Regions from separate parts of the Homo sapiens genome. Here region 1 is linked to region 2. The links come from fine-mapping of genetic effects on gene expression. A gene starts in region 2. The other region holds a variant in brackets. All regions are shown on one strand. Distances are between the middles of the regions. Region 1 has its middle 4.2 kb from the start of TMT1B. Region 2 holds the start of ITGA7 (integrin subunit alpha 7).

What was found.
Region 1: its variant is fine-mapped to the expression of ITGA7 in whole blood (GTEx, PIP above 0.99).

The regions. Positions count from the first base shown.
Region 1 is chr12:55,673,319-55,681,655 of GRCh38, reverse strand. No RefSeq gene overlaps it. Among named protein-coding and RNA genes, the nearest start is that of TMT1B, 4.2 kb to the left of the region's middle. RefSeq lists enhancers at 1-261, 7,899-8,038. The variant C/T (reference allele first, on the strand shown) is at 4,666.
Region 2 is chr12:55,704,216-55,712,552 of GRCh38, reverse strand. It overlaps ITGA7 (integrin subunit alpha 7), which reads left to right and starts at 4,649. Exons shown (of 25, transcript NM_002206.3): 1 at 4,649-5,076. The coding sequence starts at 4,871. RefSeq lists a silencer at 4,526-4,735.

The sequences.
Region 1 (8,337 bases), 31 kb after region 2:
GCTCCTTGTCTCCTACTTGACAATTTCCTATTTGCCAGAGTTGAGTGGGTGTATGGAATTCCTCCAGAGGGCGCAGGTCCCACAGCCCCACAAGCTCTTCAATGACTTTTATGTGGGCGGAGGGACAGGTGGTACCCATGTTCCTGAGTTCTGGGGCACTGTGCCCAGCTGAAGGGGGGCAGGGGCTGCTGAGTCATCTCAGAGGGAGTGGGAAGGGGTAAGGGGATATGTTTCAGATGACAGACTCATGGCGGGGGAGTGTCGGGGGCTGGCAGGGCGTTGGGGGTGGGTTGGTAGTGGTGAATGCTGGGGACAGAGTTGACTCATGGGACATATCCTGGCCTCATTTCGTCCTCAGGTCAGGCACTTCAGAGGGGCCATAGGAAGGGAAGGGTGCTCTTGGCAGAGGAAAAAGTAGGTGTACAGGACAGAGACAGCATGCCCTCTCCTGGAAAGGGTGAGAAGTTTAGTTCTGTGGGGAATGGGGTAAGTTGGACAAATAGGGGGAAGTGAGGTCAGAGAATAGCCACTTTTTAGAGATCCTTCCCTCCCTCCCTCCCTTCCTCCCTTCTTTCCTTCTTTCCTTTTTTTGAGACAGGGTCTCTGCTGCCCAGGCTGGGGTGCAGTGGCAGCAGTCTGGGCTCACTGCAACCTCAATGTCCCTAGGCTCAAGTGATCCTCTTACACCAGCCTCCTGATTTTCTGGGACTACAAGTGCATACCACCATGCCCAGCAATTTTTTTTTTTCTGTAATTTGTAGAGACAGGGTTTCACCCTGTTGCCCAGGTTGGTCTTGAACTCCTGGGCTCAGGTGATCCACCCACCTCGACTTCCCAAAGTGCTGGGATTACAGTTGGGAGCCACTGCGCCTGGCTGAGAAGAATTCTTTTTACAAAACATTATTAAACAACTTTTTTTGGAAGAGGCAGTACATTCACTTAGTACAAAATTAAAAAGATACTAAAGAGATTACAGGGAAAATTCTCTCTTCTACTCCTGTGACCCAACCACTCAGATCTCCTCTCTGGAGGCACTAAATGCCATATTGCCAATTTCTTGTGAATCCTTCCAGAGATGACCTGTGAACGAGCAGGGAACACACACACCACGTGTTTAGATCCATGTACATATATACATATACATATTCCCTTTTCTTTTACAAATAGTAGTATATTGTACACACTCTTGTATACCTTGCTTCCCCCCCTTCTTAACAATGTATTGGATTTAGTAGATAATAGCAAATGGGTTTCCAAAGTGATTGTACCCATTTACACGTCCACCAGCAATATTTGGTTTTATGTGTCTTTTATGTGTTCATATTATTATTGATGCATAGATTCCTATTTTATTCACTGATTTGTAACCTAATACCCTATTTATTTATTTACAGTTTCTTTGAGGTATAATATATATAAGAAGGTTTACATATTTACAGTATATAGATTATTTTTGACACAGTATATACCTGGGAAACCATTACCACAGTCGAGATAATGAACATGTCTATGTGTTAGGCTTTTGCATTGCTGTTAAGAAATACCTAAGGCTGGTTGATTTATAAAGAAAAAAAGTTTAATTGGTTCATAGTTCTGCAGACTGCACAGGAAGCATGGCACCAGTATCTGCTTGGCCTCTGGTGAGGGTCTCAGGGAGCTTACAATCATGGTGGAAGACGAAGGGGAGCAGTGTATCACATGGCAAGAGAGGGAGCAAGAGAGACCTTGCGTGAACTGCCAGAGCGAGAACTCACTCATCACCAAGGGGTTGGCACTGAGCCACTGATGAGGGGTTGGGACCTCAGGAGCCAAACACATCCCACCAGGCCCCACCTCTGACATTGAGGATTACATTTCAACATGAGATTTGGAGGGGACAAACATCCAAACTATATCAGTTTCCTTGTGTTTCTTTGTAATCCATTCGCCCCTCTTTCATCCCCATCTTCAGGTAACCGCTGATCTGCTCTCTGTCAGTATAGATTAATTTCTCTTCTCTTCTCTTCTCAGGCAGAGTCTCACTCTGTGGCCCAGGCTGGAGTGCAGTTGTTTGATCTTGGCTCATTGCAACCTCCACCTCCCAGGTTCAAGTGATTCTCCTGCCTCAGCCTCCTGAGTAGCTGGGATTACAAGCATGCACCACCATGCCCGGCTAATTTTTGTATTTTTAGTAGAGACGGTGTTTCACCATATTGACCAGGCTGGTCTCAAACTCCTGACCTCGGGTGATCCGCCTACCTTGGCCTCCCAAATAGTTTGCATTTTCTGGAATTTTGTGTAAATGGAATCCTATAATGTATGGGATTTCAGCATCTGGCTTATTTCATTCAGCATGTTTATTTGGAGAGTCATCCATGTTGTACATGCATCCGCAGTTCATTTCCATTTCTGAGTAGTATTCCATTGTATGGATATACCACATATATTTTTATCCATTCACTTGTTGATAAACGTTTGGGTTGTTTCCAATTTCTGACTGTTAGAAATAAAGCTACTATGAACTGTTTGTGTACATGGGTTTGTGTGGACGTATGCTTTTATTTCTCTTGGGTGAATACCTGGGTGTGTATTTTGATGTTCAAATTGCCCTAGATTTGGCTGGGGGAGCACCTGCAAGCTGGCTCCTGTCTCCTTTTGACACAACTCCATCACTCTTTGAGCATTTTCTTACTTTCTGCTACAAGAAGATGTTCCAGGCTCATCTTGTATTTCCCCTGCTCCAGCCCCGAACTTAGTTATTTCTCAAAGAAGCACTGGTCTTTTGTGAGGAGGATGGTATTTAAAAACCAAGATCTGAATGCTGGATGTGATTATCACTGGGGAGTAATTGCTCCTGGGCCTGCTCCATGGACACAGAAAGAGGCAAAGTAGTATTATCCTGTGCTTTTTATTTGCTCTTTTCTTTTTCTTTTCCTTTTTTTTTTTTTTTTTTCCTGAGACAGAGTCTCACTCTGTCGCCCAGGCTGAAGTGCAGTGGCACTATCTCGGCTTGCTGCAACCTCCGACTCCCGGATTCAAGCGATTCTCCCTCCTCAGCCTCCCGAGTAGCTGGGATTACAGGCGCATGCCACCACACTTGGCTAATTTTTGTATTTTTAGTAGAGACAGGGTTTTACCATGTTGGCCAGGCTGGTCTCGAACTCCTGACCTCAGGTGATCCACCAGCCTCGGCCTCCCAAAGTGCTGGGATTACAGGTATGAGCTGCCGTGCCCGGCTTACTTACTCTTTTCTGCGTGAGGTTGAATTTTTGTTTCTTATAATTAAGAGCCTCTGTATTTCCTTTTCTAGAAATTTTCATTTTATTTTTTATTTTTGAGATAGCCTTGCTCTGTCACTCAGGCTGGAGTGTAGTGTGCGATCACAGCTCACTGCAGCCTCAACCTCTCAGGCTCAAGCAATCCTCCCACCTTAGCCTCCTGAGTAGTGGTCACCACAGGTATATGCCAACATGCCCAGCTAATTTTTCTTTTTTTTGAGACGGAGTCTTGCTCTGTCACCCAGGCTGGAGTGCAGTGGCATGATCTCTGCTCACTGCAAGCTCTGCCTCCCGGGTTCATGCCATTCTCCTGTCTCAGCCTCCCGAGTAGCTGGAACTACAGGCGCCCGCCACCACGCCCGGCTAATTTTTTTTTGTATTTTTAGTAGAGATGGGTTTTCACCGAGTTAGTGAGGATGGTCTCGATCTCCTGACCTCGTGATCCACCCTCCTCGGCCTCTGAAAGTGCTGGGATTGCAGGCGTGAGCCACCATGCCTGGCCAGACACACATATATATTTTTTTAAATTTTCTTTTTTTAATTACACTTTAAGTTCTAGGGTACATGTGCACAACGTGCAGGTTTGTTACATATGTATACATGTACCATGTTGGTGTGCTGCACCCATTAGCTGGTCATTTACATTAGGTATATCTCCTAATGCTATCCTTCCCCCCACCCCACCCCACGACAGGCCCCAATGTGTGGTGTTCCCCACCCTGCAGATACACAGATTTTCAATTGTGAGGGGTATCAGTCCCCTAGGTCCTGAGTTGTTCAAGGGTCAACTGTACAGCCATGTGCTGCATAACACATTTAGCTCAATGACAGAGCACATATATGATGGAGGTACCATAAGATTATTATGTAGCTGAAAAATCCCTGTCCTGTAGTGATGTCTTGATGATCCTGACCTTGTGTAGACCTAGGCTAATGTGTGTCTTTGTGTCTTAGCTTTTAACAAAAAAGTTAAAAAAATTTAAAAAATAGAAAAAGCTTATAGAATAAGGATATAAAGAAATAAAATATTTTTGTACAGCTGTAGAATATTTATGTTTTAAGCTAAGTGTTATTACAAGAGTCAAAGTTAAAAAAATTAAAAAGTTTATAAAGTAAAAAAGTTGCAGTAAGCTAAGGCTAGTTTATTATTGAAGAAAAGAAAAAAAAAATGTAAATAAATTTAGTGTAGTCACTCACTGACTCACCCAGAGCAACTTCTTGTCCTGCAAAGTCCATTCATGATATGTGCCCTATATAGGTATGCCGTTTTTAAATCTTTTATACTGTATTTTTTACCACACCTTTTCCACGTTTAGATACATAAATACTTAACATGGTGTTACAATTGCCTATAGTATTGAGTACAGTAACATGCTGTACAGGCTTGCAGCCTAGGAGCAATAGGTTA[C/T]GCCATATAGCCTAGCTGTATAGTAGGCTACACCATCCAAGCTTGTGTAAGGACACTCTATGATGATGTTCCCGTAATGGTAAAATCACCTAACGATGCATTTCTCGGAACTTATTCCTGTTGTTAAGCAACATATGACTTAACATGTGACTGTATATTCAGAGTTGTGCAACCAGCCACCACAATCAATTTTAGAACATTTTCGTTACCCCAAAAGAAACTTGTGCTTTTACCACTTACTCCCATTTCCCCCATCCCCATCCCAACCCCAGTACCATCAATTTCCTTTCCGTAGGCAATCACTACTCTACTTATGTCTGTATGGATTTACTTATTCTTGACATTTCATGTAATTGGAATCATACTACATGTGGCCTATGTGACTGGCTTTTCACACAGCATAATGCTTCCAAAGTTTACACATGTTGTAGCATGTATCAATACTTCATTCCTTTTACGTCCAAGTAGCATTGCATTGTACAGATATGCCACATTTTGTTTATTTATTCAACAGTTGATAGACATTTGGGTTGTTTCCACTTTTGGGGTACTATAAACAATGCTGCTATGAATTCTTGTCTTCATTTTATCTTTCTTTCTCCTAAATCATTAATCTCTGCCTTTCCATGGATCTTTCAAAATATGAATATGCTCTAATATATTTCAGGTTAATAATAAACTGACCCTCTTGACACCACATGTCACTTTAGCTAAAACTCCATTTTACAAATCTATGTCAAAGTCTTTTTTTTTTGGCAGGATCTTGCTCTGTTGCCTAGGCTGGAGTGCACCATTCTGACTCACTGCAGCCTCAAACTCCTGGGGTTGTGCTGCCCTTCCTGCTTCAGCCTCTTGAGTAGCTAGGACTATAGGTGCATACCACCATGCCTACTAACTTTTAAAAATTTTTGTAGAGACAGGGTATCTCTCAGGGTTGCCCAGGCTGATCTTGAACTCCTGGCCTCAAGCCATCCTCCTGTCTTGGTCTCCCAAAGTGCTGGGATTACAGGCGTGAGCTACTGTGCCAAGCCCAAGAAATTTTTATTAGTGATGGATTGGAGTGGGAGAAAGAGTGAATGGAAGGTGAGGAAACCAAGATAACACGAGCAGATGACTCAAGAATTATGACTTTGGGCGGGCGTGGTGGCTCGTGCCTGTAATCCAAGTACTTTGGGAGGCCGAGAGGAAATGACTGCTTGAGCCCAGGAGTTTGAGACCAGCTTGGGCAACATAGGCTGTTGTTTTTCTCTACAAAAAATAAAAAAATTAGCCAATTAGCCGGGTGTGGTGGCATGCGCCTGTAGCCCCAGCTACTTAGGAGGCAGAGGCAAGGGGATTGCTTGAGCCTGCAAGTTCAGGGTTACAGTGAACCATGACTGGGTCAGTGTACTCCAGCCTGGGAGACAGAGAGAGACCCTGTCTCTAAAAACAAAACAAAACAAAACAAAGAAACCCGAAACTATTATTATCAAGCCTATTAATTATTTCCACATGCCAGGTCCAGTGAATATTCCCTGTTCTCATCTTATCTGACTTTTCAACAGCTTCAGAAATAGTTGGCTACTATTTCTTCTTGAAAAATTCTCTCATCTAGGCTGTCCTAACATAACAGTCTTCTTGTTTCTATAACATTCCCGTGGCTGTTACTTCTTAGAAACTTCTTTTTTTAGATCTTTCTCATCTACTCGACCTTTAAATTTTGTTTCTTTGGGTTTAGTCTTGGGTCTTTCTCTGTCTAAATTCTCTCATTAAATAACCTCATCTTTTTTTTTTTAATATAGACTTTATTTTTTAGAGCAGTTTTAGCTTCATAGAAAAGTTGAGGAAAGTACAGAGATTTTCCACATACCCTTTGTCCTCACACATGACTAGCCTTCCTCATTATCAGTATCCCCCACCAGAGTGGACATTTATTACAATTGATGAACCTACATTGACACATAATTTTCACCAAATCCCATCCATTTTCATGGTTTAAAATGCCATGTATATGCAAATTATTCACACATTTATATCTTTAGTGCAGATCCTTCCTTTGAGTTTCAAATTTGTATACCCAGTTGTGTACTTGATCCTCCTCCTCAGCATATCTTCTGGACATATAAAACTTAACATGTCCAAAATGACACTTACGGTACTCCCCAAGTCTCTTGTCTTACTCTGCCCATCTTCTTCATCATCTCAGTGAATGGCACCATTAGCTTCTTGATTGCTCAACCAAAAACCTAGGATTTATTCTATTTCTTCTCTGTCTCCTCCTTTTCTTTTCTCATTTCTAACTTTGTATAATGGAGAATTTTGAATATACACAAAAGTTGGCAGAACAGTATAAGATACCCCCATGTATACATCATTCATCCCAACAACTATCAACCCACAGCCAATCCTTCCCCATCCACATCCTTTTCTACTTTCTGCTTCCTTCTCCTGTGTGTCATTTTGAAGCAAATCCCAAACATCATGTCATTTCATCTCCATCTGTATCTCTCTATAACATATATATGACTTTCTTTTCTTTTCTTTTTTTTTGAGGCAGAGTCCCGCTCTTTTGCTAGGCTGGAGTGCAGTGGGGCGATCTCGGCTCACTGCAACCTCCGCCTCCTGGGTTCAAGCAATTCTCCTGCCTCAGCCTCCTGAGTAGCTGGGACTACAGGCACGCACCACCACACCCAGCTAATTTTTGTATTTTTAGTAGAGACAGGGTTTCACCATGTTGACCAGGATGGTCTCGATCTCTTGACCTCGTGATCTGCCTGCCTTGGCCTCCAAAAGTGCTGGGATTACAGGTGTGAGCCACCGCGCCCGGCCAATATATATATAACTTTCAAGTTACTCACAAGTCCTGTCAGCTCTATTTCCCAGTTCATTAATTTCATGCATTTCTTTCATCTCCACTGGCATAACCCTAGACCAGATCATGACCCTCCGCTGCCTGGCCCACTGCAAGGGCCTCATTAACTGTCTCTCCACTTTCACCCACTGCTTAAAACCTTTTAGTGGATTCCCATTATCTTTGGTACAAAATCTGAACTCCTTACTGTAGCCCATAAGGCCCTGTGTGATCTGGCCCCTGTCCACCTCTCATGCTACCCTCCCTTAACCCTGTGTTTTAGCTATACAATCTTCTTTCAGTTCCTCATACTCTCACTCCTTTTAGCTTCAGTGCTGTTGAGCTTGTCTTCCTCTTCCTGATATGCTTGCTTTCTTTTCAGCAGTCCCTCCTCCCTCCTGCCTAGTTAATTTTTTAACTCATTGTTTGGTTCTTGTATCAAGCATCCCTTCCCTTATTCATTTTGGTCAACAGCCCTTAGGCCAGTTTGTGATACTGTTCATGACTGTTATTATGGTATTAGTGTCTGCCCATGAGCTCCATAACAGTAAGGATTGTGTCCTTTTCCCTTATCACCACGTGTTTAGCATCTAGCATGTGCCTGGCAAGTAGTAGACACTAAAAATGTGTATGTCAAATAGATGATGAATACCTTTATCACATTTAAGCTTTTAAATTTTTCTATATTTTAATTTAATTTTATAGATGGTGTATCACTCTGTTGTGTAGGCTGGAGTGCAGTGGCTATTCATATGTGTGATTACAGCACTGTGGCCTCGAACTCCTGCCCTCAAGGGATCCTCCTGCCTCAGCCTCCTGAGTACCTGGGACTACAGGTGTGC
Region 2 (8,337 bases):
ACTCCTTTCTTCACTCATTTCCCTCTTCTTTTGAGGTCTCTTTCAGAGTTAGCTTTAATTAGCAAGCTCCAAACTGACTGGCTGGGCCAAACAGGGCTGGAAGCTGCTGAGTTGTTAGGGGTTGGATGAGGGCTGAGGGAGGACACAGAGTGAGTAGACAAGGCTTCACATACTGGGAGATCTGGCTGGGCTTCAAGAGAGGGGGTTGGTGGTGGTGTGGCTAAGTTCCAAATGTTGGCCTGAAGCCAGTGCTCAAAGAAAGGGGGCCCTTGAGACAGTCCAAATGGCTCCCTTTGGTAAGTGACCTCCCAGTCCTTCTCAAGTGTTAAGGGTTTCTTTTGGATCGTCAAAGACCGGAGCGGTCAAGCTGTTTCCCCACTGAATTCCCTCAATCACATTTATGTTCTTTTCCTCCCAGCCACTCCCATGGTTCAAGCTTTGACTACAACCAGAATTCAGAGGCAGGCAGAAGGATTCCAGTGCTGGAGAGGTGAGTGAAGTAAAAAAGTTCTCATGGTGTGCATGTTGGGACGGAAAAGCCTGACCTTGGGACATAAGCTCCAAGGCTCTGTTGCCAGATGAGGTGGAGGGAGAAGTTAGCCCTGAAGTGTGTGTTCTGGAAGTGTTTGCTTGTAAGCTAGAGACAACAGTTGCAAAAAGTGTGATTTGAGGGAGCTGAAAAATACTGATCTCAAAGTGGGGAAGAAGATGTTGAAAAGGGAAGGAGCTGGAGAAAGCCTCAGCTTCCACTCATACAAAAGCTAAAGGGCTAAAATCTTGGCTGGATCTGGACATTTCTCAACGTCTAAAATTTTGGAAATTTTTATAAAGATTATTAATCTTTCATTTTTACATTTAATTTATTTAAAAAGTTCAGTTTCTCAGTCATACTAGCCACATTTCTTTTTCTTTTTCTTTTTTTTTGAGACAGAGTCTCACTCTGTTGCCCAGGCTGAAGTACAGTGTATTAATCTATTCCATGGAGTGGAGTGGATAATCTATTCCATGGATTATCATTTTACTTTGTTAGTGGTATCCTTAGAAGCACAAAATTTTTAAATTTTTTTTTTTTTTTGAGGCAGAGTCTCACTGTGTCCCCCAGGCTGGAGTGCAGTGGTGCTATCTCTGCTCACTGCAGGCTCCGCCTTCTGGGTTCAAGCGATTCTTGTGCCTCAGCCTCCTGAGTAGCTGGGATTACAGGTGTGTACCACCACGCCCAGCTGATTTTTGTATTTTTAGTAGAGATGGGTTTTTGTCATATTGGCCAGGCTGGTCTCAAACTCCTGACCTCAAGTGATCCACCTCCCTCCCTCCCAAAGTGCTGGGATTACCATGTCTGGCTTGGAAATTATTTTGAAATAATTATAGATCAGAGGAAGTTGTAAAAATAGCACATGAAGTCTTGTGTACCTTTCACTCAGTTTCCCCTAATGGTGACATCTTATGTAACTGTAGCATAAAATCAAAACCAAAAAGTTGATATTGGTACAGTATTGTTAACTGGCCTGCAGACCTCACTCAGTTTTCACCATTTTTTACATGCATTTATTTGTTTGTTTGTAGTTCTGTGCAGTTTTATATCTTGTATAGATTTGGATAATCACCACCACAATCAAGATACAAAACCCATCACCACAAAGGAACCCCCTTGTGCTATTCCTTTATGTTTGTCCCCACCCCCCTCCATCCTTGTCCCCTGGCAGCCAGTAATCTGGTCTTCATTTCTATAGTTTTGTCATTTTGAGAATGGTATGCGAGTGGAATAATACAGTTTCAGCATTTTTTGTTTGGAGACAGGGTCTCACTCTATCACCCAGGCTGGAGTGCAGTGGCAAGATCATGGCTCACTGCAGCCTTCACCTCCTGGGCTCAAGTGACACTCCCGCCTAGCCTCCTGAGTAGCTGGGACCACAGATTTGGCTAACTTTTCTATTTTTTGTAGAGATGGGGGTCTCCCTATGTTGCCCAGGCTGGTCTCCAACTCCTGGGCTCAAGTGATCCTCCTGCCTTGGCCTCTCAAAGTGCTGGGATTGCAGGCATGAGCCACTGTGCCCAGCTCAGCATTAATTTTTAATTTAACTAATTCCTAAGCTCTTGACTGAAATACAAGAAGTTCTCTAACAGTTTATTTATTTTAATATTGAGCTTACCGCATTCTCTGGATCCTTCTAGTTTCTTTTTTTTTTCTTTTTTTCTGATGTGGAGTCTCTGTCACCCAGGCTGGAGTGCAGTGGTGCCATCTCAGCTCACTGCAACCTCCGTCTCCTGGGTTTAAGTGATTCTTGTGCCTCAGTCTCTGGAGTAGCTGGGATTACAGGTACCCGCCACCACACCCGGCTAATTTTTGTATTTTTAGTAGAGACAGGGTTTCACCGTGTTGGTCCGGCTGGTCTTGAACTTCTGATCTCAGGTGATCCGCCTGCTTCGGCCTCCCAAAGTGCTGGGATTATAGGCGTGAGCCACCGCGCCCGGCCCCGTCTAGTTTCTTAATTTCCCTCTTCACCTACGATATTATCTTCCACTCCAACATTCTGGTCTCATTTCTCCTTGAGAGAAATCTACATGTCTAAATTTACTAGGCTGGTCTAGCACGCTCTTGTGTGTTCCCCTCCCTCCTTTGCCCCTCTATTTATAGCCAGGCTAATTTTGGGTGGCCTCTCTCTCTCTTCTTTCCTGATCTTTCCTCCTGTGGTGGTGAGGTGACTTCTCAAATATTTGGAGAGAGGAGGTCAGAAGCAGATTCTTGGCATCTGATTTCAGCCCTGGATCACAGAAGCCAGTGGAGTGGGAATGGAGACAGGCAGAAGCTGCAGGTGCAGATAGGAGGCAGCTTGGGCTCTAAAGGCATTTTGAGCTGGGTCGGGGGCGGGGGGACCTGGGCAGGGAGTCAGTAGTCCCAGTTCTGTCCTAATTTTGCAATTCTGCATTCCCATGTCAGCTCTTCTCTACTGTCTGGGGCTCTGAGATATTAAAAAGGATGGGGAGGGCATGGTGAAAGTAGAATCCTGGTGCCAGCCCTGCTGACAGCATATGTATTTCCTTATAGTACCTGTTTAGAGATGTGTTAGTGCTCTGGAGGGGATAGCCACAGGTGTAGTATTGGAAAACAGAGGGCCAGACTTCCAAATGTCTGTTAACTTATCCAAGGCAAAGACTGTCCCAGGGCAGCAGAGTAAGAACCCACTTTTTTTTTGTTTTCAAAGAAGTATAATCCTGAACAATGAAGTAGGAAAGACAGAACACAGGAAGAGGAAGGAGGTAGGACACTTATTGGAACTTTTAAGAAAGGGAAAGAGAAGAAAGAATCGTAAGAATATGATAGTGTTTGAAGGGCAGAGACAACACTAGAAACATTGAGAAATACTCTGAGAAAGATTCCAAGTGTGGCAGAGACAAGAATGATGACAAAATAGAATTTGGGATGAGACAAAATCAGATAGTGAGAGAGAGAAGGGAAGATGGACAGATGTATATTCACAAGACCAACACCAGTAAGCAAGGGGAGTAGGAAGGGGAAGTGGGAGCATTCGAGGTTCCCATTATGCCAAATTATTTCCTGTCTCTCCTTCTGGCCCCATTTCTGTATCGGAGTTATAAATAGCAGAGAGTTGGAAAGTGTCCCCCCACCCCCTTGCCTCTGTCCCAGCCTGAGGGAAAGGGAGAGGAAGAGGGACAGGCCAATGGGTCCCTGTGGAGATCCCATCTCAGCCCCACCCAGGTCCTGCTGAGCCAGTCCAGGACTCTGCCCCCTCCCATCCCCTTTCATGGATAGGAAATGTGCAGTCCTGGGACGGGTCTGGTAGCTGGGGACACCCTTTACATCCCTCTGCCTCTTGGGTCCAGTCTCTTTCATCTTTGCCTTCTTTGACACCCACTCCCCTCCCCACTGCTTAATTTCCTCTTCCTGTAATCATCCCCAGTCGTTTTCTTTTCTCCCTTCATTCCATCCCTTGTCAATTAATCTCTTGCCCTTCTTTCTTCCTCTCTATTCCTTTCCTTTTTCCATTTCTCCATTTGCTCCCCGTATCTCCCGAGTTTCTCTCTCTCTTCTTGCCTCTTTTTCTCTGTTCCCTTGAATCCTGACGATGTGGCTAGCACTGCTGTGGTCATTGCCGGGCTGGGGGCGGGGGATGGGATAGGATGGGGGAGGGCAGCGGTCTGATCCCAACAGCAGAAAGAGTGCTCTATGTGACCATGGGGGAACAGGGAGCACTAAGATGCCACGCTGCACCCAGGCCCAGGACGGCTCCCCTTTCATTTCCTCTCTATCTGCACATCTCTCTTCCCAGGTTGTCTTTTAGCGTCTTCCCAACTTCTCATCTCTTACCCTCCTTCCTCTGTTTCAGCCCCTCTCTTTCTATCTGTACTTCTCTCCCTCCGCATTCCAAGGCGCCGCCTCCACCACTCCCGGGGTGGGGATGGGGTTGGGGGAGAAGGGGAGGAGAGCGCCGCGCAGGGGCGGAGCCGGAGACGGTGCTGGGCTTGGGGGGCGTGGTGGTGGGGGGTCAGCAAGGCTAGTTTCCATCCCAGCCACCAGCCTGGGCATCCCCTTGGAGACGGGCTTGGGTCTCCACCTGCCGCGGGAGCGAGGGGCGGGGCCGGAGGCGGGGCCTGAGTGGCGTCCCCGGGAGAGGAGGCGGGAGCCGGAGTGGGCGCCGGAGCTGCGGCTGCTGTAGTTGTCCTAGCCGGTGCTGGGGCGGCGGGGTGGCGGAGCGGCGGGCGGGCGGGAGGGCTGGCGGGGCGAACGTCTGGGAGACGTCTGAAAGACCAACGAGACTTTGGAGACCAGAGACGCGCCTGGGGGGACCTGGGGCTTGGGGCGTGCGAGATTTCCCTTGCATTCGCTGGGAGCTCGCGCAGGGATCGTCCCATGGCCGGGGCTCGGAGCCGCGACCCTTGGGGGGCCTCCGGGATTTGCTACCTTTTTGGCTCCCTGCTCGTCGAACTGCTCTTCTCACGGGCTGTCGCCTTCAATCTGGACGTGATGGGTGCCTTGCGCAAGGAGGGCGAGCCAGGCAGCCTCTTCGGCTTCTCTGTGGCCCTGCACCGGCAGTTGCAGCCCCGACCCCAGAGCTGGTGAGTCACCGCACCCGCCCAGAGTCGCCATGCCCGAGCCACAGATCGTCCCCCTCCCCACTCTGTGGGCCTCCTCATTTCTCTGTTTTCTAGCCCCACCAAGACCTAGACTGCCCACAGACATCCCACATCCCAACCTGGAGCCTTGCCTCATCTGGCTTGCGTCTGAAGCTGCACTTCCCGGCCCTGAGACCAGTATTTTGCTTTAGGGATGAGTTGGAAAGCAAGGTTCTTGTCTTGGCAGCGAACCATCTCCTTCTTCTGGGCCTTTCCCCCAACTTGCATCCTTGATCCAGCCCCAGGGCCTCTGGCTCCCCTGCTTCTTCCAAGGGCTGAATTCCCCAAGGGAGGGAGACTGTCTGTCTCTGCTTAGAATGGGAGGAGATGGAAAGGACATAGAAGTTGAGGGTGCCATGAGAGGGATGCATGCAGGGCAGACTCCAGAAATAACTTCCTGCTAGAGCATTGCCATGGATGGAATGAGGGCAGCAGGGCACTGGAAGGCCAGGAGAGAGCTTCCACTTCTGTGGCTTAAGACCACGGGAAGATTGGGAGAGGATCTGCAGGTCTGCCAACCTGCAGTAGGTGGCTTGGTGATAGAGAGTGGCAGCAAACTGAACCCTCAAAGTACTAGTAGCAGTAGTAGTAGCCGCAGCAGCTGTAGCAGTGAGAGAGATCCAGGAAGGATGCTGGCCAGGCTGCTCCCCTTCCTCCTCCTTAGCAAATTTCCAACTCCAGGAATCTCAGCAGCTGGGAAGGGCCAGGAGGAGTAAGGGGTGGAGGACAATTCTAATTTTTTCTAATCAGTTCAGGACCCATGGGAGATGGATATACTTTTGTGAGGGGCCTGTGACTGGTCATGTTGCCTGTATCCTTGGCTCTTGCTACATGTCTGATTGTAAAAAGGGAGGCCAGAGGTGAAGAAAGCTTCTCACCTGCTCCTGCTAGGGGGCTTTTCTCTCTTCAACCAGTGCCTAAGCCACATTAAGTATCCATTACTGGGATCAATGCTGTCCACTGGGACTGTCTTCTGCCTCTACTGTCGGTCTGGGGGCAGGGGGCAGGGACAAGAGCTCATTTCTCCTCACTTGCTTGGGGAGTGGGGGCCTAGCTCTAATCTTTCTTCTTCCATTATCCCTATCATCTGGTAGCAGGGTCGGTGGTCCCCAAAACTTTGGGAGAGATAGAAAGCAACGGACTTCATCTCCTCTTCTGTTTACCATCTGCTTCCTCATTCACCTTTGCTCCCTCCCTCCCTTCCTCCCTCCTTCTCCATCTGTCAGAGTTCGAGGACTGGAGGCCTTTTTAGGACATGCTGAACTCTCTAAGCTATTTCCAGGCAAATTCTAGGTTATTTTTAATAGCTTGGTCTCTTGTCATTTCCCCCTCCTCTCTGAAGGTGGCCCCTGGTTCCGTCTCCCAGAGCCAAGCTGGGGCCTTTCCCAGAGGGCCTGACTGCCTCACCCTGCTTTTGCTCCAGCAGGGGGTGCTCTGCTGCTGGGGGGCGGGGGGTATGTGAGAGGCCAGGCACCTGCTCAGTCCCTAGCTTTTGAGTTGCAGGTGGCCTGCCTTAGCACTCACTGATGAAAAAAACTTCTTGCCTGTTTTGATGTCTTTTAGTCTAGCTCTGGGATGAGACTTTAAGGTCTAACCTTTGCTGTGTGGTTCCAGCCTCATTTACTTCCCTCAACTGTAAAAAGGATATAAACATAGTATTACTACATAGGGTTGTTGTGCAGATTAAGAGTTCTTAATATATATAAAATGCTTAGAATAGTGCATAGCCCGCAGTGAGTGCTGTGAAGTGTTAGTAGTATTGCTATTCTTGTATTGTGATTCACAGAGCGCCTTACAGAGATTCTGGATCCAAAGGCTTGGCTAGAGGGCCTCCCTGGCTGAGCCAGCCTTCCAGGCCAAGCATCCTCCCCAGAGGGCCACCCAGATTGAGAGGGGCCAAAGAGGGGCTGGACTTGGGCTGGGGCCCTGGAGTGTGTGGAGAATCGAGAAGTGCAGTGGTCGTGGGCTACTCCTTTGTCTTCACTTAGCTGAGCTCCCAGGGGGTCCCTCTGCCCCCCAGCTGCCAACACTTTTTTTTTTTTTTTTTTGCTTTTCTCTCTGCAGTGGCTACACTGTGGCTGTCCAGAAGACTGGGGTGGTTAGGGCGTATGGCATGAAGCCAGGAAGGAGTGTGTGTGGCTGGACCAGAGGTGGAGGGACTAGAGAGGATGCTGCTGGGTGCTCTTGTTCCACTAAGGATCGATTGGTCTCTTCTCCACCAAGAGCGGACTGGGCATATCTATGCACTCAGCTTCTTTCTTCCACATGGGCCCCTCCCCTCCTCCCTACTTTTGGCCTCCAGAGGAGATGTGAACATAGAACAAGGATAACTTATCTGGGTGCTTAGCTATGCACTGACCAGCTGTGACACTGGGTATCTCTATGAGTCCACAAAATGTGTGTGTTCAGTAAACACATTCTGACACTCCCTATGGGGCAAGCACAAAGATGAAAAGACAGCCCCGACACTCAGAGAGATGGCCACTTCTATGTTTGGAGGCTGGGGGTACTGCTGACTTGCCTGAAGGTTGCCATTTATTTATGCAGGGCTGTATCACCCCGTTTCCTTTTCTGCCCAGGGTACCCTCATCTCCCCACTCTCTCCTTCCCTTTCTGGGGTGGTCTCAGTGTTCTAGAGACAGGTCAGTCACTGGGTGGAGTGACAAAGTGTTGGAGTTAGGCCCATGTGGATTTGAATTCCAGCATCACTGCTTAATGTCTTTGAGTGAGTTTTCTCATCTGAAAGACAAGAAAAGAATCCTTATCTCATAGGATTGTTCTGATGATTAAATGACATAATGCATGTGACTTGCCTATCCTGGTGCTTGGCACATATGTGGACAGTGATGAATGTTAGTTTCTTATATCCCTGGTGTCTAGCCTCGGATCTGACGTCATAGTAGGTGCTGAATAAATATGATTTCCTTGTCTCACCAGCGCCTGACACAGGGCTTGGCATACAATAGACTCTCAATAAGTAGTTGAATGCCAAATGTGTCTTCTCTTCTCTACTACTCCCTATACCCCTTCTCTGTCTTGACACTGGCTCTGACAAGGGATGGCAGCTGCTAAGAGATGAGGAGGAGTTGTGGGAAGGAAGAATGGCTCTCTGCCCTCCCCCTCCACCCCATCAGAGCTGGCACAGTGCCCCACAGATGCCTGTCTGTAATACTGCCTAACATGGTTTTGGGCCTTGCCCCCCAG